Regions from separate parts of the Homo sapiens genome. Here region 1 is linked to region 2. The links come from fine-mapping of genetic effects on gene expression. A gene starts in region 2. The other region holds a variant in brackets. All regions are shown on one strand. Distances are between the middles of the regions.

Region 1 (15,679 bases), 42 kb before region 2:
TCAATCTCCTGACCTTGTGATCTGCGCACCTCGGCCTCCCAAAGTGCTGGCATTACAGGCGTGAGCCACCACGCCTGGCCCCTAAAATTTTTTTGTAGAGATGGGGGTCTCACTATGTTGTCCAGGCTGGTCTCGAACTTGTGACCTCAAGTAGTCCTCCTGCCTTGGCCTCCCAAAGTTTTGGGATTATAGGCATGAGCCATCATGCCTGGCTTCATTGTAATTAAAACAACAACAACAAAAAAACCTTTTCTGAAAGGAAGAGTTCTTTGTGAATACTGAGGGTTATCTTTTTAAAAGGAAAAAACTGAAAGGGAAAGCTTTCATAATAAAAAGTCATAATTTTTAAAAAAAGGAGGCCAGGCACAGTGGCTCACGCCTGTAATCCCAGCACTTTGGGAGGCCAAGGCGGGTGGATCACGAGGTCAGGAGATCGAGACCATCCTGGCTAACAAGGTGAAACCTTGTCTCTACTAAAAATACAAAAAATTAGCCAGGCGTGGTGGTGGGAGCCTGTAGTCCCAGCTACTCGGGAGGCTGAGGCAGGAGAATGGCGTGAACCTGGGAGGTGGAGCTTGCAGTGAGCTAATATCGTGCCACTGCACTCCAGCCTGGGTGACGGAGCGAGACTCCATCTCAAAAAAAAAAAAAAAAAAAAAAAAGGAAGAGGGCCAGGTGCAATGGTTCACGCCTGTAATCCCAGCACTTTGGGGAGCTGAGGTAGGCAGATCACTTGAGGTCAGGAGTTCGAGACCAGCCTGGCCAACTTGGCGAAACCCTGTCTCTACTAAAAATACAAAAATTGGCCAGGTGTGGTGGCACACGTCTGTAATCCCACTGGCTGGGGCAAGATAATTGCTTGAACCTGGGAGGCGGAGGTTGCAGTGAGCTGAGATCATGTCACTGCACTCCAGCCTGGGTGACAGAGCAAGGCTCTGTCTCAGAAAAAAAAACAAAACGGTACCTTATCAAGGAAGCTAGGTGGGAAATGATCCCAGAGACTCTTCATTCTCTGGCTGGATCCAGTGAAGTGGCAAAGGTAAAACATCAAGCAGAGAGCCTATCCACAGAAGAAACTCAACAAATGCTGATTCCTTCCCGCCTCCCTTCCTCAGAGTTGTATTAACTTATCTCTGTGTGGAAGACAGAAACACACTCATCATACCATTCCCCGCCATCATCTCCTCTTGAGGATCCTTTGGGACATTTTCTTCCCGCGCAGCCTCGAGGGAGCACTCTTCTGAAGCGTGTCTCAAACGCTCGGGGTCTGCTCTCTTGAACTGCTGCATTCGCTGTAGGACCAATTGTGCTGTGCGGGGTTTGGAGGGACTTGGCACTGCTGTTGTCAAACAGGAAGGAGGAGGCTGGGAGTCGCTGTTGGGCACATTCTCTGGCAAGGAGGAAAATATTCACAACCATCTGTTGTAGCTGGAGAAATAAAAGACTTTTCTACCAGATACAGGTTAGACGCAAGTTTCAAGAGTCCTTTATCAACTAGTTTAGGTTTGACTCACAAATGTGAAGAGGACTGGTTGCTTGTTGGTAACCTCTTTGTTTATGGCAATATAGACATAAATATCAATAACAGGAGGGGAATGGGATGTGACTGCTAATGAGCATGGGGTTTATTTTTAGGATGATAAAACTGTTCTAACGTTAGGTAGTGGTGGTGGTTGGACAAGTCTGTGAATATACTAAAAACCACTGAACCATACCCTTTTAAATGGTGAATTTTATGGAATATCAATTATACCCCAATAAAGCTATTATTAAAGAAATATTAATGACAAAGGTTTATGTCCTAGATCAGTTCTTCTTTAACTTGGGATCCACGGATGATCTTCAGTGGGGATCCATGAACCCCATGAAGTTGTGTGCCAGTTTTGCAGATACGCGCATGGATACGTGTTTTGGGGGAACCATGCATAGATTTCATCCGACTGGCAAAGAGCACGAGAGACCAGTAAAGTTGGTGAGGCAACACTGCTGATGCCTTCCAGTAGTCTATGCGACCTGAGACTCTACCACCACTCTACTGAGAGGTTATTAAGATCAGGAAGTGAGGGCAAAGGAAATTTAGAAACAGAACTCAGGAGCTCAGAGAGCCCATGGTGTATTATATATGCAAGGGTAGTTTTCAGTTTTGCATGAAGAATGTGTAGTAAGCATATAGCTCAGTATACCAAGGGCAGCAGGGCAAGAAAACTGCTTTAAACAGTTAAAAAATTATCCAGGCACGGTGGTGGGTGCCTGTGGTCCCAGCTACTCGGGAGGCTGAGGCAGGGAGGACTGCTTGAACCTGGGAGGTCAAGGCTGCAGTAAGCTATGATAGCACCACTGCACTCCAGCCTGGGTGAGAGACCAAGATCCTGTCTCTAAAAACTAAGTAAGTAAATAAATCAATAACAATAACAAAGGAAAAGATTAAAAGGTCTTCAGAGAGAGAAAGAAAGAACCTGAAGATTCTCCTGGGACTTGAGCCCACACAGAGTCCTCATGCGGCCCTCTCAGCAGCCTATCCAAATTGGCTGGCCCAGTCCAACTTACCCACTTTGGAATAAATTCAAGAAAACAAGAGAAGCAGCATTATTGTGTTGTTTGTGTAACTCATGTCAATCATATAACAGAATTTCATAGGAAATTCTGAAAGAGCAGAGGACTCCAAACACAATCATGTGAAAAATTCACACGGGTTATGTTTTTCTTGACTGTTGTTTAAACCAGGAGTCAGCCGGGCGCAGTGGCTTACGCCTGTAATCCCAGCACTCTGAGAGGCTGAGGCACGAGGATTGCTTGAGTCCAGGAGTTCAAGACCAGCCTGGGCAACATAGTGAGACCTCCAGCTCTAAATTTTTTTTTAAGCTTAAAAATTAAAAAATAAAAACAAACCAAAAGTTAGCAAACTACGGTCATGTGGCTGGCTGCCTGTTTTTGTAAATAAAGTTTTACTGGCATATGGCCATGCCTGTTCATTTACATATTGTCCACGCCTGCTTTCTCACTATGACAGCAGAGTTGAGTAGTTGTGACAGAGTCTGTGTGGCCTACAAAGCCAAAATATTTACGATCTGGCCCTTTCCAGGAAGTTTTCCAGCCCCTGGTTTAAAAGAGTACAAATTACCTCTGGTTTTCTCTCTGGAAAGGTTTGGCGATGGTTCTTGCTGGTTACCCGTCTGGGTGTTTTGTGCTGTTTCCCGGAGCACAGGTGGATCTGGAGCAGAGGCAAGCACACCCCCCTCCCCATTCACAGAGTGGGCCGGTTCACTTGCTTGCCATTTGGTTACCCTTTGCTTTTTAGTCCTAGGGGCCTGGCTGCCAGACGGAGGTTTCTTCTCTGCAGGGCCTTGAAGGGTTTTGGTCTTGGTAGCAGTTTGTTTGGTCCTTTTCAATTTGCTTCTTATCTGAGTGCCGTTTGAGGCAGCCTTTTGTGTCTTCCTTTCTCCTGACACTTCCTTGATTCCATGTTTTTTCACCCTTTGGAAAAAGCTAGCGCAGAGTTCTTTAAAGTCCTCATCAGACTCATCCATCATCTGACCAGTTTTAAGGCTTTCAGGCTGGTCTTCAGAGGAGCGAGGGTCAATCCCAGGACAGGCAGACAGATGAGAAAGTGAACCCAAGTAGAAGCCTAGCTGAGCCTCATTCACACTCAGTTTCATTAGGGTTCTTCTCTACTTCTCCATTAGATACTTGGAGAGTTTGCACAATTGAACAAAAAGTACTGTTTTCCTCTCTATAATGATTGAAGTATCTTTGTTCAAATTGGGCCTGTGGTTAAACATGTTTAAAGCTTCCCTCTGTTAAAGTCCACAACTGGGCCGGGCGCGGTGGCTCACACTTGTAATCCCAGCTCTTTTGGAGGACGAGGCGGGGGGTGGATCACCTGAGGTCAGAAGTTCGAGACCAGCCTGGCCAATATGGTGAAACCTCGTTTCAACTGAAAATACAAAAAATTGGCCAGGCGTGGTAGCAGATGCCTGTAATCCCAGCTACTCGGGAGGCAGAGGCAAGAGAATCGCTTGAACCTGGGAGGCGGAGATTGCAGTGAGCCGAGATCGTGCCACTGCACTCTAACCTGGGCAACAAGAGCAAAACTCTGTCTCAAAAAATAATAATAATAAATAAATAAAGTTCACAACTGAAAGAGTGTTTTGTTGTCCAATAGATGCCTCTGAGATCGAATACATATGAACCTGGTGCTCAGATAATTCTCCAAGATCTCCATGATGATGAAACATATATGGTTCACTTAATTACACATCTGTGGAAAACCAAAAGCATGTAAGTGTAATCAGACATTGTCATTTTATGCCAGTTCTTCCAGGGAGGGACAAGGGCATGTGGGGTGAGGGAAAAGTCTTCGGAGTAACAATACTGTCAAATACTCAGTCCAGCCTGGTTAACATGGTCTAACCGTCCTATCAGACATCACAACAAAAGGACCTAGAAACCTGTCAAAGCATGTTGTTCTTCCACAGGTATTAAAATATGTGCATCTTGGGAGAGTGTTTTCTTAACTGAAATTTAGGGAGCAAACCCCATAAAAGGCAGTCACCACAGAAACAGGATGATCCCCAAATCTAGGAAAACTATCTCCTACACTGATCTAAGACCCCTGGCTGTTAAAGAGGCTCTTTCTGTAAATACTGCAACATAAGAGACAGAAAGAGACATTATATTCTCATGAACACTCAGGAGAGAAAAGGTCACTTTTACTTATCTTCTCAACCCAGCAAGGCTCTCCAAACCTGGATGACTGGAATGTCGCCTGTGTGCAAAGGCTGGGCCTCGTGAGCATGGTTGTTTACTTTGGCACACAGCTAAGTGGGGTTCAAAAATCAAAACTGAATGACCCAATGGCAGAAAGTTATTCCTTTCAAATACAATAATGCAATCTCCACTGTCCAAGGAATCTAATTAATCATTTTGTTTTCCAGAGCTGAAAATACTCCTACCTAGAATCTACTTTGTATGGCTGGCGCATTCTCTTCTGTGTCTTCCCCTTAGAGAAGTGTCCTCTAATCCTTTATGGACCGTCTCCATCCCCGTTAATCCCTATCATCGCCCACTGTTTTCACAATGGCATCTGTCATAGGTTATCATCATATGAAACAGGTAATATCTATCGAATGCTTACTGTGTGCCAAGCACTGTTCCAATTGCTTTCCAAGTCAAACTCGTTTAATCCTTACAAGAAGCCTATATGGTGGAATCTCTTGTCATCCTGTCTTTACGGCAAGGAAACACGCGCAAGCAGAATGAGGAACTGGCCTAAAGCCAGTTCAGGAACAGCTTTCACAGTGGCAGGGCTGGGATCAAACCCAGGAAGTGTGGTTCGAAACTATCCGCTCTTGTGTTTTTATTCATCGGCTTATTATCTGTCCCCCATTAAGCTCAACACTTCAGGAGGGTAGAGATCCATCTATTACTTTGCAACCTCTTTGGCTGATCTGGTGCCTGACTTGAAATAAGTGCTCCACAACTACTTGTTGAATTCATGAATTGCAAAGAGTTCGGTATAATGGGAGTAGAGAGAAAGGTGTAGGAGAAAACGCTGCGGGGAGAGGAAAGGATTGGCTCACAAGGGCCTGGAAGGTCAGGCTAGGCAAAGTGAATTTTATCCTGTTGGATGCGGGGAGCGGCTGGAACAAATTCCACCTCCACAACTGTGTTGATCTCCGCATCTCTGTTGATATGAACCTCACAACAGTCTATCTCCTCCTATAGGTGCCCAGTCAAGATTTACTGAATGACATAACGGATCCTGCAAGCCTGCAGGTTTCCAGAGGGAAGGGGACTTGTGCCTCCTTGCTTCGTACCTACCGCAGCCCACGGCTCACAGCAGGCGAGGGATGAATGAATGGATCGGTAAGGGGCGGACCCTCCCGCTTCCCCCAACCCGGCGACCTACGGAAAGGGGCTGAGGGGTTCCCCGTCTGGGAAAAGGGCTGCCAAAGACTCTAACGGCTCTAAAGTCAGACGGAGAACCCCGATCCCCGGACTGGCCCGGACGGAGACCACCGTGGGGATCCGGATCCGCCACCCTCCTCCCTCCAGGCGGGCCCCGGCCCCTCTCCACCCGAGTGCGGCTCCTGCCTCTCCGTCGGGGCTGCGGGCCTGCCGAGGCCACGGAGCCAGCGAGGGAGACGGGCGAGAAAGGCTCTTCTCCCTTAGGAAAGAGAGAACGGCCCGAAATGACAGGACCTCCGCCTCCCGGGTGCCGACTCCCAGCCCCACAGCCCGGCTCCTCCTACCTCCGGCGCCGCCGCGGCACCTTCTTAACGGAGACTCGCGCGCCTGCGCATGCGCCGCCCGCGCCCCCGCGGAGCATTGCCTGCGCGCAGGCGCAGAGCGGGCGCGCGCGGTGGTGCGGCAGCCTCGCTTCCGGTCTTCCTCTGCGGCGCCGGGCGCGGGCCCGCGGCGGCCAGCGCTTCCGGTCGGCAGGAGGCGGGGCGAGGCGGAAGCGGCGCTTGCTTCAGGTGGAGTCTGTTAGTTTTTGAGAAAGAGTTAGGGCGAGTTTAAGGCACTGTGGCAGCTGTGAGATAAAGTCTGGTTCCTCCCCAGCTGGCTCAGGAAATGTTCGCGGATACAACGGCGGCCCCCTCTGGGCATACCTGCCTGTGGAGCGGAGAGTGGACGGTGTGAGGGGGACCGGGAGAGGCACCAAATCTGGCCTGGGGGCCCGAGAAGCTTCCTCTCAGGTGGGGTGGCGTGAGAGTCGAGGCCTGGAGGTCGGG[G/A]AGGGTTAGCTACGTGAAGAGGGGATTCTGCCGCGCTTCAGGTGCCTGGAGGGGATGCCCGAGCTCTTCCGCAGGGCTAGGGTGAAGCCAGCCAGGGCCTGGGGGAAAGGTAGCAGAGGTTTGCCATGGCTTGGTATTTGAGGGACTTTACACATCGTATTAAGGGTTTGAGCTTCAACTTGGGGTCGTCGGGAGCCATTGAAGGTTTTTTGTTGTTTGTTTTTTGAGACGGGGTTTTGCTCTTGTTGCCCAGGCTGGGGTGCAGTGGCGCGATCTCGGCTCACTGCAACCTCTGTCTCCCGGGTTCGAGCGGTTCTTGTGCCTCACCTTCCCAAGTAGCTGGGATTACAGGCGCCAGTCACCACGCCCAGCTAATTTTTGTGTTTTTAGTAGAGACTAGGTTTCACTCTGTTGCCCAGGCTGGTCTCCAACTCCTGACCTCAGGTGATCCGCCCGCCTCGGCCTCCCAAAGTGGTGGGATTACAGGCGTGAGCCACCGCTCACGGCTTTTTTTTTTTTTTTTTTTAAGTAGAGACGGGCGGTGGGGGCGGGGGGGGGAGTCTCACTATGTTGCCCAGGCTGGTCTCGAGCCCTGGCCGCAAGAGATCCTCCCGCCTCGGCCTCCCAAAGCGCTGAGATTACAGGCGTGAGCCACCACGCCCGGCGTAAGATTTTGTTTTTAAAGGCCTAATTACAGTGAGAACAGATGAGGCAAGGACACCCATTAGGAGGCTATTACATAATCTAGATGAAAAGTGAGAGCGGCCCGAATTAGGAGGTGGAGCGAAAAGAATGGAGAAATATGGAGCATAGTCAAGACGCAGTTGTTAACGATTTGCCGGTTTCTGGCCTTAACATCTGAGAGTAGTGTGCCTCCAGTCACTGAAATAATGAACACAGGAGAGGTGTAAAGGAATCAGTTTGCAGGGCAGACAATATGTTTTTTAAAAGATACAGTATCATAAAATGCACACTAGAAGTGTACATTCAGTGGTTTCCAGTACGTTCACAGGATTTGCAGCCATCGTCGCTAATTCCAGAACGTTTTAAAACCCCAAATCGAACCTGCCGTACCCATTCGTAGTCACTCCGCAATTCCCCCGACCCCATCCCCTGGCAATCACTTATCGGCTTTCTGTCTCTGTGGTTTTGCGTATTCAGTACATTTTATGTAAATGGGATCATGTGATACTTGGCTTTTTCTGCTGGGCTTTTATTAAGCATGTTTTCAAGATTTCATCCATGTAGATGAATCAGTACTGCATGCCTTTTCATGGCTGCATAATCACGTGTTTGGATGGACCATGTTTTGTTTATCCATGTATCAGGTGATGGGCATATGGATGTTTTTACTTTTTGGCTGTTAGAAATAATGCTGCTATGAACATTCGTGTTCATAACACAAGTTTTTGTGTTCTAGGAGTGGAATTACTGGGTAAGACTACATTTGATTCTGAATGTTGAGCTTCAAAACCTTCCAAGAGGTTTTCCTTGATGAAGGATTTAGGAGGTGTTTACTTGCTCTCTGGCTTGGAAATCTAAGTTAGTTTGTAATATGGTTTCCAACTGGATAAAGAAGACAGAACAAGAATGATAAGCAGCCCAGAGGCAAGGGTAGGGCAGGGTGTCTTGGGACTTGAATTTATAGAGGAGACTGAGTGACGACATGGAGAGGCCAGTGCTGTTGAAATAATTTCTCTTTCCTTCCTTCCCTTCCTTGCTTCGTTTTCGACGGAGTTTGGCTCTTGTTGCCCAGGCTGGAGCGCAGTGGTGTGTGCAACCTCCACTTCCCTGGTTCAAGCGATTCTCCTGCCTCAGCCTCCGGAGTAGCTGGGATTACAGGCGCCCGCAACCGCGCCTGGCTAATTTTTTTTTTTTTTTTTTTTTTTGGACAAAATCTCGCTCTGTTGCCCAGGCTGGAATGCAGTGGTGTGATCTCGGCTCACTGCAAGCTCTGCTTCCCGGGTTCACGCCATTCTCCTGCCGCAGTCTCCCGAATACCTGGGACTACAGGCGCCCGCCACCACACCTGGCTAATTTTTTGTATTTTTAGTAGAGACGGGGTTTCACCATATTAGCCAGGATGGTCTCGATTTCCTGACCTCGTGATCTGCCCGCCTTGGCCTCCCAGAGTGCTGGGATTACAGGTGTGAGCCACCGCGCCCGGCGTAATTTTTTGTATTTCTAGTAGAGACGGGGTTTCACCATGTTGGCCAGGCTGGTCTCAAACTCCTGACATCAGGCGGGCGATCTTCCTGCCTGGACCTCCCAAAGGGCTGGGATTACTGGTGTGAGCCACCGCGCCTGGCCTGAAATAATTTACTTACATTTCTCAAGAAAAGGAGGCGTGCCACCACGTTCAGAGCCACAAGGGAGACATCAGCTTTTGGTTAGGAGGAAGAAATAGGAACAAGGAGAAAGTCTAGGCCAGAACCTTTATGGGGTTCCTCAGAAATAGCAAGTCAGGGCGGAGTAAACATTTTAGGATTGGATAATTTAAATAATTCCATCACGCTTTGCCTTTGGGTGGTCTCTAGTTGCTTGGTACCTGGCCATGGATGATTTAGGGCAGGAGAAATACTGGCTTGGTGTGTGAGAGTTAGATAAAGGGGGGAGGCTGACTTGCCTGTGAGAGGCATGCTCCCAAGTAAGTTGTTTACTGTCTTGAGGAATTAGACCTGGGAGAGGCAGTCTCCCTGCCAGCAAGATTTATTAAGATTTCAAAATATCATAGGATACAGAAAATTTTTTTAAACATCTAATAAACATGGACATGGCTGGGTTATGAAGGATAATTGTAATGGTAGAAATTACTGTTTTCCAGTCAGACTGAAAATGAAGTGCCTGTTTCCTATTTAGGATTTAAATCTCTTAGAGTCCTGGTGAAGAAAGTCTTTGCTACCTCTCTCCCCCAACCCCAAATCTGGCTATATTATTTATTTACATAAAATAAATTAGTTGAAGTGTGGTTTAGAAAAGAGAGTTTTCTTAAACCTGAGATTCTCAACTGAATCACCTGTGGAATTTTTTTTTTTTAATTGGAAAGGCTGGGACACTACTCTTAGGCCTACTGAATAAATCTTTCAACCTGTGTCTTTTGAAAGTTTCACAGATGATTCTGATGGTCTCAAGATTGAGAAGCACTGCATTTAACCAGCACCAACTGAACAAACACTGTAGGCTAAGTATAAGAGAGATGGCAAGAGCTGGGTCAGGGTGGTGCATGGGATTTCCAATTATACATAATTCCTCCCTTCAATGAACAAAGCCATCCATAACTGGGGCACCTGCTTCTTTGGGCTAAAGGTGAACAATGGCAGCCACCTTGTCCTGGACCCTATTGTGACTGTTACTCCAGCAGAAGCCCTGGGGTTCATGCTGTTAGTTAGAAGTCACCCAGTATGACTAAGTTGAGGGGCAGTGTTCAGAAACAGTGTTACTAGATGGATGTTATTTCAGTAGGAACAGTATTGTGTGTTCCCTGTCAGCATTTGAGGCGGAAACCCACTGCACTGTCAGAACAACCAGGGAGATGAAAGAAGATGTCAGATACTAAAAGGTGCAGACAGTCCTTGTGTTTGGTAAACCTTACAGGGTTTATCTGAAAGAGAAAATGGATGCAGAAGTACATGAAAAAACTGTGTTATTCCAAATAGATGTGCTGTTTTCCCAGTTCATAGGAGTCGGTAATTTTTGGGTTCAGGGCAAAAAGGCAAAGGTTGAAGATGCTGTGATGATCACGTCCTTACCCTCCTGGAATATTTCCTTTTTGAAAGCTTCTGGCATCTTCCACTGAGTTCATGTTTTAAACAGTTGGGAGGATGAATTGAAGGGCCCTTATCCCAGGTCTGTGGTTTGATTATAAATGGTAAAGCCATAACCTGTCCACCTCCCTCTCCTTTATCTTGACAGGGGTTGGGGAGACAGCAGATTGAACAAGGAAAGAATTGTCTCCTGAGTTCTTTGATCATGTTAACTTTTATTTACTGTTGTATAGTCACATTTTCTAGACTGCTAAAATTGGTGAAATCAGGACAGGAAATAACTGTTTTTACGTGTATAAGTATACAAAAGTTATTCGAGATGAGTTACACTGCATTTCTTTCAGTGTGCTGCCTGCCACTGCTGCCTTTGTGTGATTTTGCTCTATATGTTCTGCTAGACAAATTTAAGGGAGGTTTCAGACAGCAAAACTCCCCCCAAAGCATCTACCAGCATAATCCCTATCAAAATCCCAACAACGTTTTAATTTTTTTGCAGAAGTGGAAAAACCGATGTTAAAATTCATATGGAATTGGCCGGGTGCGGTGGCTCACGCCTGTAATCCCGGCATTTTGGGAGTCTGAGTCAGGCAGATCACTTGAGGTCAGGAGTTCGAGACCAGCCTGACCAACATGGTGAAACCCCATGTCTACTAAAAATATAAAAATTAGCCGGATGTGGTGGCAGGTACCTGTAATCCCAGCTACTTGGAAGGCTGAGGCGGGAGAATCCCTTGAACCCAGGAGATGGAGGTTGCAGTGATCCAAGATCACAACACTGCACTCCAGCCTGGGTGATACAGTGAGACTGTGTCTCAAATAAATAAATTAAATAAATAAATAAATAAATTCATATGTAATTGCAAGGGGCTCTTAATACCCAAAACCCAAATAGCCACTTTGTTCTTTTTCAAGAACGTACTTCCTTATATCAAAACTTATTACAAGCTATAGTAATCAAGACTGTGTGGTACTGTACCAGCATAAGGATAGACATATGGGTCAGTGGAAGAGAATTGAGAGTCTAGAAATAAACCCTTATATTTATGAGCAATTGATTTTGTCCGGGATGCCAAGACTAGTCAATGGTGAAAGAGTAGTGTCTTCCACAAATGGAGCTGGGATAACAGGATATCACATGCAAAAGAATGAAGTTAGACCCTTACCTCATATCATGTACAAATATTAACTCAGAATGGATCAAAGACCCAATGGAAGAGTGAAAACTATAAAACTCTTAGAAGAATACAAGGGTAGGCTGGGCGTGGTGGCTCACCCCTGTAATCCCAGCACTTTTGGCATCACCAGAGGTCAGGAGTTTGAGACCAGCCTGACCAACGTGGAGAAACCCCGTCTGTACTAAAAATACAAAATTAGCAGGGCGTGGTGGTGTGCGCCCGTAATCCCAGCTACTCGGGAGGCTGAGGCAGGAGAATCGCTTGAACCCGGGAGATGGAGGTTGCGGTGAGCCGAGATCGCACCACTACGCTCCAGCCTAGTCAACAAGAGCGAAACTCCATCTCAAAAAAAAAAAAAAAAAAAAAAAAAAAGAATACTACAAGGGTAAATCTTTATGACCTTGGAGTTGGCAGTAGACTCTAGATATGACACTAAAAGCAGAAACAACAAAAAATAATGAATTGGATTTAATCAAAATTAAAAACTTTTTTGTGTAAAAGTATACTATCAAGAAAATGAGAAGACAACCCACAGAATGGGAGATATTTGTTAATCATATACCTGATAAGAATCTATGCTGCTGTCTAAATGTTTATGTCTCCCCCCACCCAATTCATATGTGAAGGCCTCAACCGCAAGGTGATGGGATTAGTGCATAAGGATAAGGATGGAGGCCCTTGTGGCCATGTGTGGTGGCTCATGCCGGTAATCCCAGCACTTTGGAAGGCGGAGGCGGGAGGATTGCTTGGGCCCAGGAGTTTGAGACCAGCCTGGGCAGCAAGGTGAGACTCCATTTTTACAAAAATTTTTTTAAAAAAAGAAAAGAGGCCCAAGAGAGAAACCCCCTACCCTTTCTGCCATTAGAGGAAGTGGGCCTTCACCAGACAGAGTCTGCCAACACCTTGATCTTGGACTTCCCAGCCTCCAGAACAGTGAGAATTTCTGTTGTTTATTAGCTACCCAGTCTGTGGTATTTTGTAAGAGCAGCCCAAATGGACTAAGACATTCTAGTAGCACAATATAGAAAGAACTTTTACAACTCAATGAAAAGACAACTCAGAAAATGGGCATGGTAGAACTTGTCCTGTGAAGAAGCCAAGACCAAAAAAAAAAAAAAAAAATGGACATAGGACTTGAATAGACATTCCAAAGAGTGGCAGGTGCCAACAAGCACATGAAAAGATGATCAGCATCATGAATCGTTAGAGAAGTGCAAATTGAAACTGCAGTGAGATACCACTTCATGGCCAGTAGGACAGCCATTTCCTAAAAAAAAAAAAAAAAAAGTATTGGTGAGGATGTAAGGAAGTTAGAACTCTGATACATTGCTGGAGGGAATGTAAAATGGTACAGCTGCTGTGGGAAACAGTTTGAGGTTCCTGAACAAGTTAAAGATAAAATCATCATATGATTCAGCAATTCCGCTTCTAAGGATATGTCCCAAAAAATTGAAAAAGTGTTTAAGGGCCAGGCGCGGTGGCTCACGCCCGTAATCCCAGCACTTTGGGAGGCCAAGGCGGGCGGATTACCTCTGGTCAGGAGTTTGAGACCAGCTTGGCCAATATGGTGAAACCCCGTCTCTACTAAAACTATAAAAATTAGCCGGGCTTGGTGGTGGGTGCCTGAATCCCAACTACTCGGGAGGCTGAGGCAGGAGAATCACTTGAACCTGGGAGGCAGAGTTTATGGTGAGCTGAGATGGTGCCATTGCACTCCAGCCTGGGCAACAAGAATGAAACTCCGTCAAAAAGAAGAAATGCTCAAACAAAAACGTGTACACCTCATATTCAGTCTAAATGCCCTTCAGTGCATGAATGAACAAAATGTAGTATAGAATGGAATACATGTTACACTGAACATTTGCTTATTTCCGTTTTGTAATTTTTTTTTAGTGACAAGGTCTCATTTCTGTTGCCCAGGCTCGAGTACAGTGGCACAATCATGACTCATGGCAGCCTCAGACTGCCAGGGATCAAGTGATCTTTCTGATCTTCCCAACTTCCTTATCTTCCTGACTCAGCCTACCTGTAGCTAGAGCTAGAAGGGCCCCTGGGTAATTTTTTTTTTTTTGAGACGGGGTTACACTCTATCATCCAGAATGGAGTGCAGTGGGGCAATCTCAGCTCACTGCAACCTCCACATCCCAGGCTCAAGTGATCCTCCTGCCTCAGCCTCCCTAGTAGCTGGGACTGCAGGCATGTAAAACCACACCTGGCTAATTTTTTGTATTTTTAGTAGAGAAAGGGTTTTGCCATGTTGCCCAGGCTGATCTCAAACTCCTGCGCTCAAGTGATCTGCCCACCTTGGCCTCCCAAAGTGCTGGGATTACAGGCATGAGCCACAATGCCTGGCCTGTGGGTAATTTTCTTTCTTTCTTTTATTTTTTATTTTTTTTTGGAGACAGAGTCTCGCTCTGTCGCCCAGGCCGAAGTGCAGTGGTGTGATCTCAGCTTACTGCAAGCTCTGCCTCCCAGTTGCATGCCATTCTCCTGCCTCAGCCTCCCGAGTAGCTGGGGCTACAGGCTCCCGCCACCACGCCTAGCTCCATTTTTGTATTTTTAGTAGAGACAGGGTTTCACCGTGTTAGCCAGGATGGTCTCTATCTGCGGACCTTGTGATCTGCCCACCTCGGCCTCCCAAAGTGCTGGGATTACAGGCATGAGCCACTGTGCCTGGCCGCCTGTAGGTAATTAAAAAAAAAATTTTTTTTGTAGACACAGGTCTTGCTATGTTGCCCAGGATGATCTCAAATTCCTGGGCTCAAGTGGTTCTCCTGCCTTGGCCTCCCAAAGTGCTGGGATTATAGGTGTGAGCCACCACGCCTGGCCCTCAGTATTTTTAAAAATTCTAATTTCCATTTACAGCTCTACTAAATATTTCATCGAGTCAGCAGATTGGTTATAAATATAACGAAAATTCATATGTATGGCTTTTCTTTTTTTTTTTTTTTTGAGACAGAGTCTTGCTCTGTCACCTAGGCTGGAGTGCAGTGGCATAATCTCGCCTCACTGCAACCCCCGCCTCCGGGGTTCAAGTGATTCTCTTGCCTCAGCCTCCTGAGTAGCTGGGACTACGGGCATGCGCCATCACGCCTGGCCAATTTTTGTATTTTTAGTAGAGATGAGGTTTCACCATGTTGGCCAGGCTGGTGTTGAACTCCTGACCTCAAGTGATCCACCCGCATCGGCTTCCCAAAGCGCTGGGATTACAGGCATGAGCCACCTCGCCAGGCCTGTGTATGGCTTTTCTTTTAAAAAGTTTACATGTCATATTTACCACATTACATTCATTGAGTCACATCATTCATCACATCATTTAGTCACGTGACTGGGTAACAAGCATTTCAGAGATCAAAAGGCTTCGTATAATTAGTAAAGAAACCTTTTATTTATTTATTTAGAGACAGAGTACTCAGTGTGTCACCCAGGCTGGAGTGCAGCGTGGCCTGATCATAGCTCACTGTAACTTCGAGGCTGCAGTGAGCTGTGATCATGCCACTCTACTTTAGCCTGGGTGACAGAGTGAGACCCTGTCTCAAAAAAAAAAAAAAAGTAATTATACTATGCATATTGCATCATGAGCATTTCTCTAAGTCAGTAGATAGGAAGCCATATTATATTCCATATTTAATCAAACATTCCCCTGTTGATAAAGATATATTTATAGTTTTTATCATTATAGATTATGCAATAAATGTCTTTGTACTTATAACCTGTATGTGTGTGTTTTTATTTCTTTTGGAAGGAGTCCTAAATCTAGGATTTCTAGGCTAAAGGGTATGTGTGTTTTGTTTGGTTTGCCTGATTTTTTTTTTTAAAAAGTTTATTATTTATTTTGAGACAGAGTCTTACTCTGTCACCCAGGCTGGAGTGCAGTGGCGCAATGCCGGCTCACTGCAACCTCCGCTCCCCAGGTTCAAGCGATTCTCCTGCCTCAGCCTCCGGAGTAGCTGGGATTACAGGCGCCTGCACCACACCTGGTTAATTTTTGTATTTTTAGTAGAGA
Region 2 (15,679 bases):
GCAGTCCTCCCACTGTGGCCTGCCAAAGTGCTGGGATTACAGGCATGAGGCACCACACGCAGCCAGAAAATTTCAGCATATTCAAAACTAGTATTACACATCTTCGTGTACTCATTACCCAGCCTCAGGGCTGGCATTTTGAAGCAAATCCCAGGTACTGTACCACTTCATCTTTCAATATTTTATTAATAGTATGTGACTGTAAAATATAAGGCCAGGTGTTGTAGCTCACACCTGTAATCCCAGCACTTTGGGAAGCCAAGGCAGGAGAATCACTTGAACCCAGGAGTTGGAAAGCAGCCTGGGCAGCACAGTGAGATCCCCACCCCATCTCTACCAAAAAAGAACAATTTTTTTTTTTAAATTAGCCAGGTGTGGCTGGGTGCAGTGGCTCACACCTGTAATCCTAGCACTTTGGAAGGCTGAGGCGGGCGGATCACTTGAGGCCAGGAGTTTGGGACCAGCCTGGCCAACATGGCAAAACCCCGTCTTTACTGAAAATACAAAACTTAGCCAGGCATGGTGGCGCACATCCGTAATCCCATCTACTAGGGAGGCTGAGGGAGGAGAATTGCTCAAACTTGGGAGGCCGGAGGTTGCAGTGAGCCATGATGGCACCACTGTCCTCCAGCATGGGCAACAGAGCAAGAACCTGTCTCAAAAGAAAACAAAACCAGGTGTGATGGCACATGGCAGGAGGCTGAGGCAGGAGGATCCCTTCAGCTCAGGCTGCAGTGCACTACAATTGTGCCTGTGAAAAGCCACTGCAGTGGCCGGATGCGGTGGCTCACGCCTGTAATCCCAGCACTTTGGGAGGCTGAGATGGGCGGAACACAAGGTCAGGAGATCGAGACCATCCTGGCTAACATGGTGAAATCCCGTCTCTACTAAAAATACAAAAAATTAGCTGGGCGTGGTGGCGGGCGCCTGTAGTCCCAGCTACTCAGGAGGCTGAGGCAGGAGAATGGCATGAACCCCAGAGGTGAAGCTTGCAGAGAATGGTGTGAACCCCAGAGGCGAAGCTCGCGTGAACCCCAGAGGCAGGCTGCAGTGCAGAGCCAAGATCGCGCCACTGCACTCCAGCCTAGAAAGAAAAGCCACTGCACTCCAGCCTAGACAACGTAGTGAGACCCTGTTCCTAAAATAATTTCTTTAAAAACAAAACATAAGGACCAATAAGAGCCATTACAAACTTAAGAGTTTACTATTAATACTTCCCAGTTATGGGTCAGTGTTCTGCTTTCCCTGATTGCCTCTTACATAATTTGTTACACAAATGTCTGTTTGCATGAATAAAAGATTGGATGTTTTATAGGATCTAAGGTCCATACATTTTGTTTATGGATATATCTCAAGTTTTATTATCATTTAACATCCATCTCAAAATGTGAACTTTTTTTAACCTATGAGTTCTGCCTCTCTTCTTCTTTTCATTTTGAAATCTATTGATGAGCCTGTCCTTTGCCATCTACGATTTCCCAGTCTGGGTCGTACCGTGTCCCCATGGTGCTGTTGAACGTGAGCCTCTGTCCTTGTATTTGCTTTAAGTTGTCATTTAGATCTAGAGGTTTGATCAGATTCAAGATTGTTTTGGCAAGAACTCTCCTAAGTGCTGCTGTGTGTGGTCTTGGATTAGAAGGGACAGAGGCTGTCTTTTGTGATGTTAGCAGCCACTACATCAGGGCTGAGATTAGGGACGGCAAAATGGTGACTTTCAGGTCTAGCATTCCTTCCTCGTGTATTAGCTGGAGTCCACCTATCTAAAGAGAGCCTTCTCGAGCTATGGGTTACTGGGCAGTCCTTTTTGCATAGGAAAGGCAGAATACCGCCTTGATCCTTTGACTTTATTTGCCTTTTTGCAGAAGAACAAGTTGAGTTCCTAGCATCCCCCTAAGGTGGCTGATAATTATTTTATGTCAACATGAACTTATGTATTGAAACACAGTGATATGTTTAATCTGTTGCAATTATTCTTTTCAGTAGCAATTTGTAGAACTGAGAATTTCTTTGTGACAGAACGTTGAAGCAGTGGTGAATGATGAAGGATAGAAAAGAAGTTATATTCAGTAAAGTAGGAAATCTAACTCAGGCATATGCATTATGTCAGATCAGAAGCTTCACACTTTCTCAGTTGAGAGCACTCTTGATTAAGGTTCAATAATTATTTTAATAGTAAGCCAAAAGAAATCCCTGATAGTGGTGCCGGAGGAGACAGGTTGTGTTTTTATCTTGTGGCCTGGGTAGTGTCCTGGGACCCTCTGCCCCATCTGAGTCAAGTGTTGTGGGATAAAGGAATCTCTCAGGGCGAGGAGCTTCTTAAGTTAAATCGGTAGAAATTTAGGCATGACATGGGCCTTCAAATGTGTGAGGAGCTGTATCATTTTATTTCTCGGTGTGTTTTCCCCAACTTCTAGTTGATAAAAAAAAAATTCTTAAAGAGTTTTCGTATGTGGGAGCTAAGGTGGTCTTGTAAAATTTCAAGTCATCCTTAAATAAAATGACCCGCCTGAGAACTTGCTCCCGCTAAGTGGCGAAATCAACTGGAGTTGGTTCCTACAAGTTTTGTTTATTCTAGTTTTGTTTGTAAGTAGGTTGTGTGAGTTAATTCATGGATATTTACTATATGTCTTTTAAATTAGAAAACATTTGTTATTATGTATGTCCTTTTAGATTTTACCTGCAGCTCATACTTTGAAATCATCACCCAGTAGTGTCTTACTCTAGCATCGTCTAAATCTGAGCATCATCTGGTGGAATCTTAAATTTCAGTAGAAACCACGAGTTATTAATACATCTTCCACTCAAGTATCAATTTCAGAAGGAAACGTAAATGAATATTCTAAATAAGGCTAATTTGTATTAATCTGCCTTTATGTTTGAGGGAAAAAAAGCTGAGACATTGCATGAAAGATGATGCAGGATATACGCTGATCTTTTGGCCCCAATGAGCTATTTGAACATTGTCCTGTTTATTGTTAGTTTTCTTCATCATTTATTATATGGTCAATTTTTGAATTCCTGTAATATGAAACCTTATTCTATCTTTTAACTTACTGTTACCTAAAGTTAGTAAGTCCAGATTATATGGTCATTCAAAAAAAAAAAAAAAAAGAAAAGAAAAAGAAATCCCCCACAGTTCCATTTATTAAATAAGTAAACCCCAATAATAAGCATTTGTGTCCTGGCAACTTATAGTGGATGTCTAGAAAAGTAATACATAAAGAGAAATGTTCATGTTATTTGTTTAGTCATGGGATGTGTGTGCCTGTCGAGCACCTCTTCAACTTGGAATCTGGTAGAACACCGCCACCCTCATTGCCTCATTTTTCCACGTCGACCTTCACAGTAATTGCTTGTTCAGTGACTGCCACAACCCAGCCTGGCAGAGAGAGGGAAGATACCCTATAAAGCAAGGTAACGTTAATGTTGAGACCATGAATGGCCTTGAGCAGAGCAGAGTATCATTGCTTCCTTCAAAATTCAGAAGGATCTGATGGTGCTCTGTGAGTTCATGGGGGTGCCTCCGTGCAGGTTGGAAACCACAGCTGTGCGTCCTTCCCGCTTTCCCTCTTGATCAGTAGAAGGGTACCCTCCCTGGCCTGCACGTCGCTGGGTCACACAACACTGGCTGTCGTTGCACAAAGCCACGGCCACCAGCGTTCCTTTGAGGCCATTTGTTTCCAGCCATGGTGCCTATAGGATTTTTCCTTTATCCTGTAATTTCAGCCAAATCAGAGCATGTGACCTGGCTTAGATGTCAATATAATTGTTGTTATGTGCTCTTTTCCCTTCCTGTGTCTGTGACAGGTTTAATTTAACCTGAGAAGGCTGCAGATCCTCGGGGTTGGTGTAAAAACACCTCATCCTGATCTGAGAAGGCGGTCAGCTTTTCTCCTCGTTGCCGTTGGCTGCCAGCACCCATTCTCTGTGGATGTGAAAATCCCAGAAGGGCTGGGCTTCCTTCTTGGGCATTCCCCAGGCCTATCTCCAGAGTGGGGCCCAGCATGGGAGGATTGTACCCCACTCACTCCCCTGATGTGGGGCTTGGACCTACAGCTCGACAGCACCCATGGAATGTGGGCAGAAGCGACAGCAGCCAGCTCCGCCTTGGCCTTAGGGCGGCACGTGTTCTGCTTGTGCCCTGGGAGCCTCCACCTTCCACACTGTGGGAAGAGGGTGCCCAGGGAGCTGCAGTCTCTCCAGCCCAGCCCCAGGACGAGGCCCAGGCAGCAGAGCCACCCCAGCAGACCTGGCAGTGTGAGAGAAATGCATGTGTATACACTGAGTTTGCAGGTGGCTGTTACATGGCAGCATTGACTGACACAGACAGAAAAGAGATCCACGAGGGAGAAGTGAGAGTGCTGGAGACTCCACAAGCCACAGGCTGCAGGGGCAGGATGGCTTCTTAGAAGGTGAAATGATTGTTCTGGGAATCTATCAGAGGAAGACATAGAGGCTCCAGACGGTTGAAGGCCCAACAGTGATCCCAGACGGGCCCCATGTCAGACCAGGCTCCTCCAGGGCTGTGCTGCCCTCACCAAAGCCCGTCCTGAGGGCAGCCACACAGCAGGCAGCACTCGCCATTTGTACAAGCGAGGCCCAAGTTCCAGCCTTCCTTCTGGCAGGTAGAGGAAGCAGGGGCACTATGCCTGGGAGTTCCTGAAAGCAGATGGGGCAGCATTTGGTCAAGAGCCAGGAGGGGATGACAGACCAGAGGGGAACCCTCGTCCCACGTGCTGAGCACACGTAGGGGGTTGGGCACTTGCTCTGTGAGCTATAATTGGTGTCCCTGTGCCCCGCCGGAAGCTGCACCAGGCAGTTTCTTGGTGGAGGACAGTGGCCGCCCTCTAGCTTTACTCCCTTCCCCGTGATGGGTCGCTGTCAGATGTGTGTCCAGGAAAGGCAAACACCAAAGGCAGAGGACTAGTCCCTACACCGAATACTCCGGTGGCCTTGCTTGGGGGCTGGGTTTTGACGTGCTGGAGGCTGTCCTAGACTTAGAGATTAAAAACAGGGAAGAACCATTGCTGAAACCTTTGGAAAAGCCTGCAATGGGGCCTCTGGCAGCCTGAGGAGTGGTGGTGTTTCCATCTGGTAGACGCCGTCTCAATAGGAGGGACAGATGAGTGCACCAGTGCTGCCAGCCAGAGGCGTCTGTTGGCGTGTCTTTATGGAATGGGGTGCCAGTCTTGTGGAGGGTGGTTTACCTTCCTGTTTCTAGTCCCCACTGGGCCTGCCTTCTGCTTCATGGCCAGCTGGCCAGACCGAGCACTTTCCTGACTTTCGACCTTGGCCCCTGCTGACTCTTGCCGTTGAGGCCTCCTGCAGACCCCATTTGTATTCATTTCCTGCAGTTCTCATACCTGAATCCCGCCTGGACTTCTGCCAAGCCTTCCAGGCCCTCCTCCCCCAGGGGGACCACAGATGCTACGTGCAGGGCTGTCCTTGGAGGGCCAGCACAGCCCCTTCCAAGTGGGCAAGACCCAGGGGTGGCTCAAAAGATAGCTGTGCCCTAGCCCTGGAACCTCTGAATGTTGATTTTTGTAGCAAAAAAGGACTTGCAGATGTGAGTAAAGGCTGTTGAGATAAGGACATCCTCCCTGCTCTCTGGGAGGACCCCAAATGCAGGTGCACAGATCTTAAGAAGAAGAGGCAGAGACTGGGGTGATGCAGCCACAACTAAGGAAAGCCAAGGATTGCTGGCAGCCTGCAGAAACTGGAGGGCAAGGAGCATCCCCCAACCGCCCGGAGCCTCCAGGAGGCGCAAGGTCCTACTGACTCCCTGACTTCAGACGTCCAGTCTCCGGAATTTTGAGAGGATCCATTTCTGTTATTTTAAGCAACCAAACTTGTGGTAGTTTCACCAGTCTCAGGAAATGAATACGAATGGAAAGTCAAAGATTCCAAGAAATGAGTGGCGGGGTGCGGTGGCTCACACTTGTAATCCCAGCATTTGCGGGAAGATTGCTTGGGCTCAGGACTTGGAGACCTTGTGTCTGTGAGAAACTTAAAAAATAGGCTGGGTGCGATGGCTCACGCCTGTAATCCCAGCACTTTGGGAGGCCGAGGCAGGCGGATCACAAGGTCACGAGTTTGAGACCAGTGTGACCAACATGGTGAAACCCTGTCTCTACTAAAAATACAAAAATTAGCCGGGTGTGGTGGTGCGTGCCTGTAATCCCAGCTACTCGGGAGGCTGAGGCAGAAGAATTGCTTGAACCCAGGAAGCAGAGGTTGCAGTGAGCCGAGATAGTATTACTGCACTCCAGGCTGGGCAGCAGAGCAAGATTCCGCCTCAAAAAAAAAAAAAAAAAAAAAAAAAAAAAAAAAAACTGAGCATGGTAGCATGCACCTGTGGTCCTGGCTACGCCGGAGGATTGCCTGAAGCCAGGAGTTCAAGACCAGTCTGGACAAAAGAGCAAGACCCCATCTCTACCAAAAAAATTTAAAAATTAGCCAGGCATGGTGCCGTACCCATAGTCTTAGCTACTCAGGAGGCTGAGGAGGGAGGATTATCTGAGCCCTGGCGGTTGAGGCTATAATGAGCCATGATTGTGCCACTGCACTCCAGCCTTGGCAACACAGTGTGAGACCCTGTCTCAAAAACAATAAAAACCCAAAACAAAAGAACCAAGAAATTACTGGACCTGAGGCCTGGCCTTTAGCTGCTGCCCTGCCCTTGTGACCTGGTCACTCGGGATCCCCTGGGCCTAAACACACAGCCTATTGTCTACCTCAAGAAGGCTCCCCACTGCTTGGCTGGCAATTGGGGTGGGCTTTGCAGGCCCCACCTGTCCTGGCCCCACGGCGCTGGTGCTGCAGGCCCCCACCACTGCTTGTTCCGAGCTCCCCAGCCTCCTGCAGAGTTGCCTGCACCTGATGGCGATGAATCAGGAAGGCAGGCGTGTCCTGGGCCACAGAGCAGTCATGGCTGTCAGCCACCAGGGGGCTCCATTTGCAACTTTGGATGTGGCTTTGGCCTCTTTGTCCAAAGTGACCTTGGGGCCCCCAGACAAGAGACAGGGAGACTGGAGCCCAGCCCCACCCTCCCGCACATACCTGGCCCATCCCTGCCCTATCCTGGAAGATGGGGGCCACCACACGTGCAAGGGACACGGGATAGGAACCTTTGGCCTTGTTATCAGACATTTTAAAACTAAGTGCAAACGTGATTATCAGGTGCAGTTTTTACAGCAGCAAGAAACCTGTGCTTACAGAAAGAAACACGTGCTAGCAACCCACCTATGCGGAAAGCCACACAGAGCCATTGTTTTCTGCACTCTCAGGTGACGGCTCACATTTGCCCCAGGGAAGGTCACAGCTGCCTGAACTTTTAAAACTCCCAGACACGCACTGCCTGTGCAGGATCCGGAGCCCAGCAGCACTGCCAGGGCCTTGAAGTGCTTCTTCAGAGACCTTTCTTCATAGACTACTTTTTTTTCTTTAAGCAGCAAAAGGAGAAAATTGTCATCAAAGGATATTCCAGATTCTTGACAGCATTCTCGTCATCTCTGAGGACATCACCATCATCTCAGGTGAGCACCAGGTGGAGTGCCTCTGGGTGACTGGCCGGTTTGGAGCAGGGAGGGAGGCTTAGAGTCTCATCCTCCAGCAGCGAGTGAGGCGGAGGCTCCAGCGTCCCTCCCGGGCGGGTTTTCTGGTGGATGGAGGAGTGACTCGGGGTCCTCTACGTGGTGCCAGCTGTTTGGCTTTCTGGACGTTGTAGGAAAGGGTTTCCCCCGCCTGCGTCCCCCTGACCTTGAGCTCCACCAGCCCCTGCCAGCTGGGCTCCAGAAGGCTGGAGTGCTGTGGCAGGGATGACGTCTCACTTCTGTTATGTCTCTGTGCCCTGTGCTCTCCCAGGATGAGGGGCATGAAGCTGCTGGGGGCGCTGCTGGCACTGGCGGCCCTACTGCAGGGGGCCGTGTCCCTGAAGATCGCAGCCTTCAACATCCAGACATTTGGGGAGACCAAGATGTCCAATGCCACCCTCGTCAGCTACATTGTGCAGGTGAGGCCAGGGCAGCCTCCCCCCAAAAGCAGAGGAGCTCTGGAGTCTAGGGCTGGTGGGCAGGGCCAGCCCTATGGAGCCACAGGGTGTCGGGTGTGGGGTACTGAGCACCACTGCTCCCAGCACGGTGGAACAGGCTCTTGGCTGTGGACCAAGGTCCTCATCCCTGCTGTGCTGTCCCTGGCTGGCAGCAGGAGCCCAGGCAGAAACATGAGGCTGCGGTTAAACCGAGCAATGCCACGAGCATCAGCTGTGGCTCCCTTTGTGGCGCTGTAGGGTCCCTGGGTGGCACCAGCCCTGCTCAGCACCACTGTGGCCCTGCCCCCAGATCCTGAGCCGCTATGACATCGCCCTGGTCCAGGAGGTCAGAGACAGCCACCTGACTGCCGTGGGGAAGCTGCTGGACAACCTCAATCAGTGGGTGACAGTGGCAGGGTCATAGGAAGGTGACATCTCGTCCACGGCACAGCCTCACTTCACTTGGGCCCCAAGGGTGGGGACCTGGGCACAGCCTCGCTATCGGCAGCCAGAGGGGTCCCCTATGGCCCCCGCCACTGGGACCTTTTGTTTCTTCAATCCAGGGATGCACCAGACACCTATCACTACGTGGTCAGTGAGCCACTGGGACGGAACAGCTATAAGGAGCGCTACCTGTTCGTGTACAGGTGGGTGGTCTAGAAAGCCAGGAAGCCCCTCCCTCACCTGGGAGGGCCCCAACAGAGCAGGGAAGTAGTTTGTCCTATTAGTTTGTCCTATGGCAAGAACCTGAGGCTTCAGAGCAGGGTCCAGGGTGGAGTGAAAACACCCCAAGGTCCCGGACCAATGGGTTGAGCAGGTGCCTGGCTCCCCCGCCCTCCTGTCGCCTGGGTCCCGGACCAATGGGTTGAGCAGGTGCCTGGCTCCCCCGCCCTCCTGTCGCCTGGGTCCCGGACCAATGGGTTGAGCAGGTGCCTGGCTCCCCCGCCCTCCTGTCGCCTGGGTCCCGGACCAATGGGTTGAGCAGGTGCCTGGCTCCCCCGCCCTCCTGTCGCCTGGGACGCGACGCCTGCCTCCTGGGAAGCAGGAGTGGGGCAGCTTCCAGCCTGGGGTCACCTCCTCCTGCCCGGCCTTCCCGCAGGCCTGACCAGGTGTCTGCGGTGGACAGCTACTACTACGATGATGGCTGCGAGCCCTGCGGGAACGACACCTTCAACCGAGAGCCAGCCATTGTCAGGTTCTTCTCCCGGTTCACAGGTGGGTGCTGCCTGGGCCAGGGTGGGGCTCGGCTTGGCGCTTATGGCCTCCACCCCCTCCTAGGGAACCTGGAATGCCTGTGTCACACACTGCCCTCCCAGTCCCTGGGGCTTGGGTTTTCCATTCAAGTCATTTGGAAAATATCCACCCCCCGGGGGGACTGTCATGATACATAGTTCCAGCTGACATGGTGACTGAACCTGCCCCCAGGGAGTGTGCCTCACACGACGTGGCTGTCTCCACAGAGGTCAGGGAGTTTGCCATTGTTCCCCTGCATGCGGCCCCGGGGGACGCAGTAGCCGAGATCGACGCTCTCTATGACGTCTACCTGGATGTCCAAGAGAAATGGGGCTTGGAGGTGAGGCCCTCCCAGGGGCAGTGGGCACCAGCGGCCTCCGCATGTCCCAGGGCCACAGGCAGCGTTTCCTGGTAGGACGTCATGTTGATGGGCGACTTCAATGCGGGCTGCAGCTATGTGAGACCCTCCCAGTGGTCATCCATCCGCCTGTGGACAAGCCCCACCTTCCAGTGGCTGATCCCCGACAGCGCTGACACCACAGCTACACCCACGCACTGTGCCTATGACAGGTGAGCAGGGCCTCGCGCTTAGGGCAGACTGAGGGCACCTCCAAGGGCAGCCGTGACTCATAGGTCGGGCTTCAGAAGCCTCAAAGCCTTTGAACACTCACCCAACTGAGCTTCAGTTGATCCACTACAGGGAACAGAATAACAAGAGCCACGATTTTTAGGTTTTTTCGGAAAAGCACATCTGGGGATAAGAGGAGAGGCAGACACCTAGGCTGTCATGTGGTTTCCACATTGAGGGGCACAGACCAGGGTGTGCAGTTTTGGGCACCCACAGACCTGCACTGGCAGGTCCCAGGGCTCTTAGTTTAGTTCCTGCGGGTGCTGAGCCAGGCCCATGTGTGAAAGGGGAACCTACTTTCTCTTCCCAACACCCATCAGGATCGTGGTTGCAGGGATGCTGCTCCGAGGCGCCGTTGTTCCCGACTCGGCTCTTCCCTTTAACTTCCAGGCTGCCTATGGCCTGAGTGACCAACTGGTATGTGTCCTCCCTTGCACAGCCACATGAGGATGGGACACAGGAGCTCAGGTAGGCTCAGCCCAGACCCTGTGCCCACTTGCCTGCAGGCCCAAGCCATCAGTGACCACTATCCAGTGGAGGTGATGCTGAAGTGAGCAGCCCCTCCCCACACCAGTTGAACTGCAGGAAGAGAGGACCCATCCTGCCACAGGACCCAGAAAAAAAGCCCAACACACACTCGGGTTAAGAAATACCTTTAAATTTAGGTAAATAAAGCTCAAGGAGGTGGGGCTGTCATCTGTGGTGTCAGTCCTTCTGGCCCCCTGGCTGTCAGTGTCGCTCCAGGGCCTTGACAAGCAGCTCATTCAAGCGGCCCACCATGGCCCTAGGGTCGTCAACAAGTCCAGCAGCAATCATGGCGTTCTCGTATATCTGAAAGGCAAGAGGAGAAACCCATTATGAGGGGCATGGGGCACCTTTTCATTTTTTTTTTTTTGAGACAGAGTCTCACTGTTGCCGAGGCTGGAGTGCAGAGGCACGATCTCGGCTCACTGCAACCTCAGGTGATCCCCCCGCCTCCCAAAGTGCTGGGATTACAGGCGTGAGCCACCACGCCTGGCCATTTTTCCGTTTTTAAAACAGAATTTGGCTGGGCACGGTGGCTCACGAGGTCAGGAGATTGAGACCATCCTGGCCAAGATGGTGAAAACCCCATCTCTACTAAAATACAAAATTAGCCAGGCGCATGCCTGTAGTCCCAGCTACTCGGGAGGCTGAGGCAGGGGAATTGCTTGAACCCGGGAGGCAGAGGTTGTAGTGAGCCAAGATCGCGCCACTGCACTCCAGCCTGGCAACAGAGCAACACTCCATCTCAAAAAACAAACAAACAAACAAAAAGACAGGATTTTAGAGGAAACCGCTGTTCCACCCTGAAGGCAGGCTGGCAGGGCTGGTAGCCTGGGTCCCTGCAGTCATCCTAAGCTGCTGCACTCACCTGATCCACCAGCAGCTGAGCCAGGCCAGGCTCGCTTGCGCGCAGCTGATTCAGCTTCTTGATGAGCGCGTGCCTGCAACACAGAACCCACCAGAAAAAGCAGCTCAGTACCACGTGCTGTGACCCTCCCTTCATGTTTTGGGATTATCAGGATATTTAAAGAAGCACAGTAAGACTGTCTGTAGTTTTTTAAATAAGGTATGTTAATGATCATTTATAGATAATATCATTATATACCCAGAAAACCCAAGAGAATCAGGAGTGTCAGTATTAGAAAATGCTGTAAGGTAGCCAAACTCCAAGATTAATATACACTAAAGGGACAAAAGGAGCTTAGTACGTGAAGACATGCCTTGGTTCCTAGATAAATAATAAAAGAGAAGGGAGTAAGACCCACATGTTGAAACATATTATAGGGCTCTAGTAAATAAAACAGTTTAGGTCTGGAAAGGGGGAAGGCAAACAACTCCATGTAACGAGGGTGGACACTGAGTGTCTGATGAGGACAGTATTTCACAGAAGAGGGAGGAGACAGATCACTCCATCCAGCAGCACTGGGATGACTGGGAGCCATGCAGAAAACCATTTAGACCAGAGTAAATTCCAGAGGGATCAAAGATGACAAGCACAATTCTAGGGAAGAAATGTTTCATCATCTCAGAAGGGGAAAGCCTTTCCAAGCAAAACCACAAACCAAAAAGTAAAGAATGATTGACATATTTGACGTCAGAACAATATTTTTTTCTGCATAGGAAAAAGCATCATGTAGTATTTAACCTTAACATGAATATTATAATTTTTCACTTAGAAGTCTGATAAAACCGAGGGCTCTGGGGAACTGTAAATTTGTACAACCTCTCCAGAGGACAACTGGAGTCGGGAAAACCACATGTGGATGATATGCTGAGACTCAGCCATTCCATTTCCTAACTGCATCCCTTTAAACACTTTTTTTTTTAGATAGATAGATAGATAGATAGATAGATAGACTCTCACTCCTTCACCCAAGCTAGAGTGAAATGGCATGATCTTGGCTCACCGCAGCCTCCTGGTTTCAAGAGGTTCTCTTGCCTCAGCCTCCCAAGTAACTGGGATTACAGGCACCCACCACCACCCCCAGCTAGTTTTTGTATTTTTAGTAGAGATGAGGTCTCGAACTCCTGACCTCAAGTGATCCACCCGCCTAGGCCTCCCAAAATGTTGGGATTACAGGCGTGAGGCACCGCACCCAACCTAACAGAGGAAACACTTCAAATGCACATCCTCACATTTCTAGTCTACGTAGCTGGAAAAAAAGGACATTCTTAATATGCTAATGTGGAGGTCACCTAGTTACCCTAAGGGAGAAAAGCAAGGCAAGGACCCACTGCACAGCAAGTTCCCCCTTGGAAGCCCACGGGCGCAGCTGCCCACAAATGCACATAATCTCTGCAGAAATACAAAAGCCCTAATGCTGGCTGCACTGGGGACACAGGTAGGAGGAAATTTTCCCCTGTAAGCAGTTTTGAATTCTGAACTATGTGGACAGAACACCAAATTTTAAAACAAATGAAAGTGAAGCTGGCTGGGCACAGTGGCTCTCGCCTGTAATCCCACCACTTTGGGAGGCCAAGGCTGCAGTGAGCTCTGATGGCGCCACTGGTACACTCCAGCCTAGGTGACAGAGCAAGACCCTGTCTCCAAAAGTGAAGTGGCAACAGACAGAAACGAGCACTTCTGCAGCTATCTCACAAAACTAGTTTGCCACCAAAACTAGTTAAAGTGACCTGGTGTCCGCCTCACTGAGCTGCTCCAGCAGAGGCACAGGCATTCTGCATACTGGCGCTGCTGTGCACTGACAGCCATAAGCCAAGTCAGCCTTTCCCCAGGAGTGCCATGGCTAGGAAGATGCATCTCCCTCGCCTCCAGTATAATTTTAAAAGTTATGGTTGTAAAATGACAAAAGAAAAAAACTAGACATGTACTAAAGAACAAAACAAAAACTGGCTGGGGGTGGTAGCCCACACTTGTAATCCCAGCACTTCGGGAGGCTAAGGCAGGTGGATTGTTTGAGGCCAGGAGGTAGAAGTTGCAGTGAGCTGAGATTGCCCCACTGCACTCCAACCTGGGGGACAGAGTGAGACCCTGTCTCAAAAATTAAAATACTACTTAGGCTACATTGTGGGGGGGGTGGTAAGTCTATGGATTTTGATTTCCTTTTTGCTGTTTTCTATTTTTGGTAACATGTTTATGTAACTTCATTTTTTAAAAAATTGCTACATTCAAAATTTCCCCCAAAAAAGAAACTTCATATACAAGTTAGTTCATATACAAGTTAGAAAATGAAATTTTAAAATACCCCATAAGACACATCAAAGAATAATTCTTTAAAAATGGTACCAGAACCCTACAGAGAATGTAAGGTACCAAAGGATGTTAAAGACCTAAATAGATCACATTCATGGGTGCAAAGAAGTGATACTGTAAAAAGAAAGAAACTCAAAAGATACCTAAAGGCAGGTGAAAAGACATTTACAACAGATAAAGGGCATATAAAGAACAACAGGAAGAAACGAGGGAAATCTTACGGCTCAGCCACTGTCAGGGCTGGGGGGTTCTCGGTGCACCCTGGAAGCAGCTCCCACCACCGGGGCCACAGAGAAACCCACACAAGCCCCAGACACGTGGACAAGAATACTCAGAGCAGCCTGGCTCTCCACAACTTCTGACCAAGAACCACCGGAGGCCCAGCAGAGCAGAACGGAGCAGTCTGCTGTGCCGAGGTGGGTTTCTGCAGCGGACATTATTCGGCTATGAAAATGAACTTGTGGCAGCCCCTCTGCATGGGCAACCCTCATGCCAAGTGAGCAACGTGAGACTTCAGCAAACACCAAGATCCACGTACAAAGCTCAAAACAGGCAAAACTGAGCATGTCCAGGACACGCACAGGTGGCAAAGCCATAAAGCAAAACGAGGACATGGTCACAGGCTGGGATGTGGCTAACCTCCCAGGTGACACCTGGGGATGGTAAGGGGCTGGCCAGGTTCCATTTCACATGGGTGCAGCCTAAACTGCATACAGCTCCTTATAGTTACCCACATGTCCACAGGCCTCACGCACTTTTCTTCTGTGTCACATTCCACAACAAAAGAACACCACACACAGGATTCTGGGGAATCCCACAGGCTGGAAGAGCCAGGAGCGTGGCCTCACCTGGGGTTGATCTCCAGCGTGGGCTGCAGGAGCTGTGCGCGCTCCTCCTGGGTCTTGGCCAGCTGCTGCATGCGCAGGAAGTGGCGGGCAGCCCCCATCTCCAGCACGGTGACCATGGCAGGGTGGGTGTCCAGTCGGAGGGTCACCTGTGAGCAAAGCCCGGGGTTGAGGGTGATAGAGGTTCCCAATGTGAGAGGGCTGGCAGGATCTTACCAGGGGTGAAGGTCACCCAGACCACGAGGTAGCAGGCGGGGTCTCAAGGACTCCCCTGGACCAGCGCTGCTCCCTCCCCATTACCCACTAACTTGTGGGCCCTGAGCTGATGCCCCACGCAAAGATACTGTGCCCGAGGGGCTCCACCACCCTGGTGCCCCGCTGCTGCCTCCAGGAGCTGCCCGAATCCATCGTCCTCTGCTCCATGCCAGCCCACCCTGCATGAGGCCCCTTCCTCCAAGTGACCATGCATGGGACGCTCATTTCTCACTCTGAGCTAGACAGGTTGGTGGGGGGAGTCTTAGCTCTCTGAAGCCCACCCAAAACCCCCGACTAAGCACCCAAGTGAGCATGTGAGCTCCTGAGGGCTGGGGTAGCATGTCCCTTGTTTGGAACCCCCACGTCCTCAGCCATTGCAGCTCCCACTCAGGATGCTGGTTTTTCAGTTCTCAGTTCACACCTGCTCTGGAGCAGGGCTGGGAGAAAGACACGGCCTTCCTGCCTCAGCGGCACTCCCGAGCAACACGTGCCGAGCAGGGACCCACAGGGTCTCCACCTGACACCAAGGGCTTCTGCTGCTGCTGGAAGGACACCCAACGGGCCAGGTACTGGGAGCCACCAGCTGGCCAGCCTGTTAGGGACACTGCGGCCAAGTGGTGGTCCATCCCCGGGAAAGCCTCACCTTCACGTTGGTGACACGCGACCCCAGCACATTTCTCATCCAGGCCATGAGCTCCTCCGTCTCCTTCTCTGATAGGCACTCGGCGGCTGCGGAAGAGCAGGCGACAGGGAGCTCAGGCCTGCATCCCAACTCCCCGGCTTCCATGGGGGCCACGCAGCATGCTTCCAGCTCCCACCTCCTCTCCCACCAGGATGGAGACACAAGCTAGCAAGATGCTTTTCATCTAAAAGTAAAACCTCAAAGGATGCTTCAGGTTGCCTGAGGCCCATACAACTTGGTTAGGGCTTTAAAAAAATACACAGCCTCT

Evidence for each region.
Region 1: its variant is fine-mapped to the expression of DNASE1 in whole blood (TOPMed, PIP 0.90).

Annotation. Positions count from the first base shown.
Region 1 is chr16:3,605,309-3,620,987 of GRCh38, forward strand. It overlaps SLX4 (SLX4 structure-specific endonuclease subunit), which reads right to left and starts at 6,298. Exons shown (of 15, transcript NM_032444.4): 1 at 6,252-6,298; 2 at 3,122-4,258; 3 at 1,166-1,390. The coding sequence starts at 3,656. It also overlaps a transcript of DNASE1 not described here. RefSeq lists a silencer at 6,156-6,505 and an enhancer at 6,546-6,615. The variant G/A (reference allele first, on the strand shown) is at 6,735.
Region 2 is chr16:3,647,510-3,663,188 of GRCh38, forward strand. DNASE1 (deoxyribonuclease 1) reads left to right here and starts at 7,182. Exons shown (of 9, transcript NM_005223.4): 1 at 7,182-7,535; 2 at 7,864-8,011; 3 at 8,340-8,428; 4 at 8,593-8,676; 5 at 9,129-9,244; 6 at 9,490-9,602; 7 at 9,678-9,832; 8 at 10,211-10,307; 9 at 10,397-10,586. The coding sequence starts at 7,865. The coding sequence ends at 10,444. TRAP1 (TNF receptor associated protein 1) reads right to left here. Exons shown (of 18, transcript NM_016292.3): 15 at 15,373-15,458; 16 at 14,478-14,623; 17 at 11,284-11,356; 18 at 10,528-10,721. The coding sequence ends at 10,620. It overlaps LOC124903631 (a long non-coding RNA gene), which reads right to left and starts at 10,258. Exons shown (of 2, transcript XR_007064954.1): 1 at 10,188-10,258; 2 at 3,127-10,013. RefSeq lists enhancers at 7,359-7,886, 7,887-8,414.